Homo sapiens: one gene and its partner. The protein of the gene in region 1 purifies or fractionates together with the protein of each later gene. This does not show direct contact. Each region holds a gene or a part of one and is shown on either strand. Other genes may lie near its edges. The genes, in order: PPP1R14C and UBL7.

Region 1 (3,816 bases):
AGTAACTAATGCCCTCCGCAGAACAGCACAGCAATGGGTTTTTCTGCAAATATAATTCAAATAGTTTTGACGCCAGCCAAGTTAGGCCAAACAGGCTTTGACTTGCATAGCAGTGTAGAGCCTCGCCCTACACAGTAGGCATCTTCAGTTAGGCATCTTCCCCTTAGGACTGTGCACGGCTCTCTGTTAGGTATTGCACTGACCCATTTTCCCCAACCCCTGAGATCTGGGCTGTCCCATATGGTAAGCATATGTGGTAAGCACATTTGAATACATTAAAATGAAATACAACTCAGTTCCTCAGTCGCAATGACCACATCTCAAGTGCTCAATAGCTACACGAGGCAAGTGGCTACTGTGCTGGAAAGCACAGATGGAGAGCACTTGCATTGTAGCAGAAAGCTCTATTGGACAGTGCTACCCCAGAGTACACTCGCCCTCTGGCCCAGAAGTTGGGAAGCAAAGCCCCTTCCCCTCTCAAAGGGGCTTGACAGGAGTAAAGAAAAAAATGCCAGGCATCTCAAGGTCACTCCTACTACCCAAGGGCATGTGATGAGAAACCCTGAGCTTGGTTTTACCAGCCAGAAAGCTGATGCAAACAAAGCCCAGATCTCAAGGGTTGGGGAAAAAACCTCAAGTGATTGAGTCATCGTTAACAGCCATTAGGCATCTGCGCTTTTTACCAACCTATGCTGCTTCTCAGAAATCCCACCCTGATTTATCAGAGGCATAGGAAGAGAAAGGCATCCCGCTCCCAGCTCAGCATGCGTCCCGGGTGTTCTGAATGTCAGTGAAGCTGAAACAAAACCCAGGTGAGAAGAACATAGAGACCCAGAGGCTCTTGAGGGAGAGTCCTGGGAAGCAAAGACAGCACCTAGTACCAAGTAGAGAATCCTGTAAATTGGTACTTAATATTCTTAATGAGAAGTATGGAAATATTCTAAATTTGATTGAAGTCCTATTTAACTTTATCTTCTGTATGCTGATCTTAGAGCAGTATCACTGAATGACCTTAGTGATAGATCAAATCACTTACAAAGGAGGGAACATGCCCATGGCCCACCATGACGTCCCAGAGCTTAGTTGTGTTTGGGCATTTTCCCACATTAAAGGTGTGTCCCTAAACAGTGGCTCTGGTGACAAAAAGTGAAACAACTGTCTTCACAGCTGCTGGGGAAAGTTATCAGCTACTCCCTGCCCCACATTAGTGAGAGGCCCTCCTGTTGGTACCCATAGCACGAGGCCCTGGATCACCTCTACACATCTTTCTTGTCGTACATTTGTTGAGAACCCAGAGTCCGCAGAGTGCAAGGCACTGTGTGTCAGCCACAGTGAGGCCCTGGCACTGGGGGACGGGCTGTCTAAACACAGCTCTGACAAACACAATGACATGCAATGGCCCCAAAGCCACAGACAAACCTGAAGCGCTTTAGTGATTCAGGGAGAGAGAAAACTCCGCCAGGGGCAGGCAGGGAAGTTGCACACAGGAGGGAGGAGGTGAACTGACCTTGCGGAATGACAGGATTTGAACAGGTTTAGAGGGAAGGGAGAGCACTCCCAAGAGGCAAAATGGTAGCAGGAGGCAAAGAGACAAGATGAATTCTAAATGTGGGTGTAGAAAGGTCCTTGGCCAGGAAGCCAGTCAGCTCTGGGCTGCAAATATGCACGTCGATGGGGGCCAGACAGGTGACAGAAATGGAGCAGGCTGAGGGGCTATACAGTAGAGTGAGGAGTGCAGCAAACTGGAGAAAACATGGCCTGAGGGAAAGCAGCAGGGAACACGCCATTCCCACCTCCTGTCACCTTCTAGGAATATGTGCTCAGTGCTGCTGGATTTTCTACGTTTTCAGGAATAACTGAAAATAGAGTTTTTTAATGTAAAAAAATTCCAATTTTTAAAGCTGTCCGTCAACTTCTTAAAATATTGTGTAGGATAAACAAAACCCATTGGCCCATAGGCTGCCGGTTCCCCTTGTCCTGCAGAGACTGTCACACTGAAGGCTCCATGGCTCCAGAACAAGACAGGGGAATGACAGAAGGAAGAGATGGCCCCACTGCGGAGCCCGGGATAACAGGGAGGAGGCAGGAGGCTGTGGGAATGTCATGTATCAGGTGCGAAGCAACAGGGCTTGAAGATGATCCTGGCAAAAATAAGATTTTAAAATAGTGATAATAGGGAGGAATAAACAGATGGAGTTTGGAGATGAACTGGATGAGGGATCGGGGGAAAGAAAAGGTAAAGATAAGATCCAGGTTCTGAGGCTGAGAGGTTTTGGAGAAGGACAGTAATGACGGGAGCACACCGGGGCTCTGAAGACACCTCACAAACCAACACACAGTGTAGGCTTGGCCATCACCAGCCCCCTTGCCCCAACTTGCAAGCAGCAGTGGGACTCCGCATTGCCACTGCACTGGGAAGCGCTGCAGAACCTGGCGCTGGGCATGCCACGGATGAAGCTCAGAACAGGCTCAGGTACCAGGATGCAGAAATGCAAGCAAAGCAGGGTCCTGAAACACAGCTGGCCCGCAGTGACAACACACACACACACACAAATATATACACAAACATACACAAATATATACACAGACATACACACACATGAATACACACAATCCACACCACTCATACACACACATGCACACACACATACACAAACATATACACATACACACAGATGAATACACTCCACACCATTCATACACTCACATCCACACACACACACACACAAATATATACACAAACATACACACACATGAATATAAACACTCCACACTACTCACTCACATGCATGCACACACAAATATATATACAAACATACACACACGAATACACACACTCCACACTACTCATACGCTCACATGCACACACACACACACAAATACATACACAAACATACACTCCATGTGAATACACACATGGATGAATACACAAACATGAATACACACACTCCACACCACTCACATGCATACACACACACAAATATATACACAAACATACACACAGATGAATACACACACTCCACACCATTCATACACTCACATCCACACACACAAACACATACACAAACATACACACACATGAATACACCCATTCCACACCACTCATACACTCACATGCACACATACACACATACACAAATAAACACACAGATATATACACACACTTCTAACTAGCCAGAAAGTTTACACTGTCAGCCCTGTCTGATGTCACATTAGCTTTTAAAAAATATAAACGTTCACCCCTGCCCACAGCAGTGAAGGGAGCAGGCAGGAATGTTCAAGCTAAAACCTCACCTGAAGATGGATCATGGTCTCCAAGCTCTAGGAGACATAGCTTGGCAGCTTCCTGGAAATGACTGTGGCTAACAGCTCTCATCCGTCTCCATTTCAAAATAGGGATGGCAACGTAACACGGGATTAAACTCCTGTGCAAATTGTGGCAGCTGATGGAGAAACGTGGGGTGGCAGGGGTGGGGAGTGGCAAATGTCAGCTTATTATGGCCTGTTCAAACACTCATCTGAACAATAGCCACAATTTCTTATAGCTCATCTTTCTATAGGCCTATGGGAGCAAACTGGCATAGGAAGCGTATAAAAAGAACTGAATCCTTGGGACTATGTGAGCTGTCTATGAAAACATTTACATCTCATGTTTTCATTGTAATGACAATCCAAAATAATTCCTGTAAGCAAGCACAGTCTAAGAATAGTCTGGACAGCCGTGCTATAACCACGCTGTGCCGGGCTGCTCTGTGTTTACACATTGGCATCAAGCAGAATTATGTTAATTGTTGTGGCTAATGAGAAAAAAGCCAC
Region 2 (3,816 bases), on another chromosome or scaffold:
GAGACATGGGATTTCACCATGTTGGCCAGGCTGGTCTTGAACTCCTAACCTTGTGATTCTGCCCGCCTCAGCCTCCCAAAATGCTGGGATTACAGGCATGAGCCACCGCTCCTGGCCAACATTGTGAATTCTTTTTCTGAAAGAACAGAAGTTTGGGATGAGTTAGGAAAGGAGAAGTTGGTCAGGGGAGGCTCCTCAGTATATTTGAGGTAGGTCTTCAGGGATGATTAGAAGGATTTTTGCTTGGTTGACTGAGTAAAGGAAAGGCAGTAAAAAAGAAAAAGTGGCGTGGGCAGTCCAGGTGGAGGAGGGAGGAATTTAAATATAATTAAATTACACTGAAAAGGTAATTTTTAATAGCTAAAGGATCCAACTGGCAAGAAAGATGTTTTCAGTCATACCTGGATTGGGTTCATCCTATTTTGTTGTTTTTCCATTGATTTAAATTGGGCAGCCTCCACAATGTTAAACTCCAGAGTTTTTCTGTGGATAGATTCTGTGTGAATCCTTTTTTTTTTTTTTTTTTTTTGAGACGGAGTCTTGCTCTGTTGCCCAGGCTGGAGTGCAGTGGCGAGATCTCAGCTCATTGTAACCTCTGTCTCCCAGGTTCAGGCAATTTTCCTGCCTCAGCCTCCTGAATAACTGGGATTACAGGCCCGCACAACCACAACTGGCTAATTTTTGTGTGTATGTGTGTATATATATATATATTTCTTTTTTTTTGAGACAGAGTCTTGCTCTGTTGCCCAGGCTGGAGTGCAGTGGTGTGATCTTGGCTCACTGCAACCTCCGCCTCCTGGGTTCAAGCAATTCTCCTGCTTCAGCCTCCTGAGTAGCAGGGATTACAGGCGTCTGCCACCATGCCTGGCTAATTTTTGTATTTTTGGTAGAGACGAGGTTTACCATCTTGGCCAGGCTGGCCTTGAACTCCTGACCTCAGGTGATCCACCCACCTCGGCCTCCCAAAGTGTTGGGATTACAGGTGTGAGCCACCGTGCCCGGCCCTAATTTTCGCCATGGCCCAGGTTTCGCCATGTCGGCCAGGCTCCAAAAGTGCTGGGTTTATAGGTGTGAGCCACCACATCTGGCCAGATTCGATGTAAGTCCATTTTATGAGTTTATATTTGCAAATAGTTGTTGAAATGTATTTAATTGGCTAGGCATGGTGGTTCACGCCTGTCATCCCAGCACTTTGTGAGGCTAAGGCAGGAGGATCCCTTGAGCCCAGGAGTTAAGAGACTAGTCTAGGCAACATGGCAAAACCCCGTCTCTACAAAAAACTACAAAAATTAGCTGGGTGTGGTGGCATGTGCCTGTAGTCCCAGCTACTCAGGAGGCTAAGGTGGGAGAATTGCTTGACCCCAGGAGGTTGAGGCTGCAGTGAACCGTGATGGTGCCATTGCACTCAAGCCTGGGCAACAGAGTAAGACCCTGTTTTCCAAAAAAAAAAAAGTATTTGTTAAGTTATTGAATAAGAGTATCTTTTAAAACATGTATCATTCTCCAGCTATCTAATCAAAATAAGGTTCTCGGGACAAAAACCATGTAAATTTGTTTTGAGGAGCAAAATATAAGTGGACAGTTCTTTTTTTAGATCTGATCTACTGTGGTCGGAAGCTAAAAGATGACCAGACACTTGACTTCTATGGCATTCAACCTGGGTCCACTGTCCATGTTCTGCGAAAGTCCTGGCCTGAACCTGATCAGAAACCGGGTGAGTGAGGGGCAGCCCTTAGGCAGGCAGAGTTTCTGTAATATCCGCAAGGGAAGGATCTGTGTGTTCTTGAGGCACAAGCCTGGGTGGAACAAAGGGATGATTTACTGAGCTGATGATAAATGATATCTTTATTACTTATTGGATTAGACCATGCTGATAAACAGAGTCCAATTTTGACCTTCTTACTGCCGGCATCACTAATGGAAGATTTGTTTCTCCATTTTGTTTTTTGTTTTTTGGTTTTTTTGAGACAGTCTCACTCTGTTGCCCAGGCTGGAGTGCAGTGGCACAATCTTGATCTTGGATCACTGCAACCTCCGCCTCCCAGGTTCAAGTGATTCTCATGCCTCAGCCTCCCGAGTAGCTGGGATTACAGGCATGAGTCACCATGCCCAGCTAATTTTTTTTTTTTTTTTTTTTCTGAGACGGAGTCTCACTCTGTCTCACAGGCTGGAGTGCAGTGGTGTGATCTTGGCTCACTGCAAGCTCCGCCTCCCGGGTTCACACCATTCTCCTGCCTCAGCCTCCCAGGTAGCTGGGACTACAGGCGCCCACCACCAAGCCTGGCTAATTTTTTTTGTGTTTTTTAGTAGAGACGGGGTTTCACCGTGTTAGCCAGGATGGTCTCGATCTCCTGACCTTGTGATCTGCCCGCCTCGGCCTCCCAAAGTGCTGGGATTAAAGGCGTGAGCCACTGTACCCGGCCTTCAATTTTTGTATTTTTAGTAGAGACGGGGTGTCTCCATGTTGGTCAACCTGGTCTCGAACTCCTGACCTCAAGCCATCCACCCCACCTCAGCCTCCCAAAGTACAGGCACCATTCCTGGCTTGTTTCTCCACTTTCTAAGTTTGTCATCCACTGTTTCCTAATGGGACAGGGAGTTTGTGTCTACTTAAACTCCTTTAAGTTAACAGTTTATTTTTTAGTGATACAAAGTAAACTTTGTATCCTTTTGTTATTATCGTTGTTCTCATTAGAAAAAAGCTGGAAACTTTTGGCACTTTCCTAATGCTGCAGTTTATTCCCTTGTTAACAAATCTTCCTACAAACTGCCTCAGGTGGTGATTTGTTCAGTTAGCTAACTGCTCTTGCTATACTGGTATTTTCCTGAAGATATTCAAAGAGTATTTAAATAGCTCTTGGAGAAAATATACAAAGCCTCAGATGCCTTTTTGGTTTATAAATAGAAGGTGCTTGGAATTCATGATTTAAATTTTGCATGTGTGTTTTAAAAGCCTCCCTAAGAATAAAGCTAAGCTGTGTAAAAGAGATTAGCTTTGTTACACTGGCAGGTTGACATCTTTTTATAATGTTCATGATTGCTGTGACTAGTTATCAGTTTGAAATTTACCCCCCTTTCAGTTCTAACTGTAAAAGACAAAAATGTCTTTCATACCCTGATGGGAAGTGAGAAAGAGGAACAGAGTTCCTGACATCCAGAGGTTGGCCTGGCACTCACAGCCAGGCCCTGGAATCCTTTTGGGGATCATGAACAATTGTACAGATCCCCAGTAGCAGTCAAGGCCACTCTGAGACCACTATGGATTAAGACAAAAACAAGATCCCTATTATTGCTGAACAGAAACACAAAAACATGAGCATTATCCAAACCACAAAGGTGACCAAGTATCTTTCTATCTTGGCTGATGAGAGTAACAGCTGCTTCTTGGCCAATTACAGCTTCCACCTTGCTCTAGTTTTCCTTCCTTCTAGGTAAGAGTTATTAAGATACTCAATTATAAAATCACTCCCACTGCCTGAAAGCATCCTATCCAGAGTAAAACCTCACTTCTTTAAATTTTTCCCCAAATCAGCCAGACAAAACCAAAATCCTGTAAGAAGTCCTTTCTGGCCGGGTGCAGCAGCTTACGCCTGTAATCCCAGAACTTTGGGAGGCCGAGGTGGGCGGATCACCTGAGATTGGGAGTTCGAGACAAGCCTGACCAACATGGAGAAACCCCGTCTATACTAAAAATACAAAATTAGCCAGGCATGGTGGTGCCTGCTTGTAATCCCAGCTACTTGAGAGGCTGACGCAGGAGAATCGGTTGAACCCAAGAGGCAGAGGTTGCAATGAGCCGAGATCACGCCATTGTAT

The links.
Region 2: the proteins of PPP1R14C (region 1) and UBL7 fractionate together in Homo sapiens (co-fractionation; one large-scale study listed by BioGRID). This does not show direct contact.

Annotation. Positions count from the first base shown.
Region 1 is NC_000006.12:150,208,754-150,212,569, reverse strand, and holds part of PPP1R14C (protein phosphatase 1 regulatory subunit 14C), read right to left. Parts: intron 1-3,816. UniProt on the Homo sapiens protein: Inhibitor of the PP1 regulatory subunit PPP1CA.
Region 2 is NC_000015.10:74,454,450-74,458,265, reverse strand, and holds part of UBL7 (ubiquitin-like protein 7), read left to right. Parts: intron 1-1,594; coding exon 1,595-1,714; intron 1,715-3,816.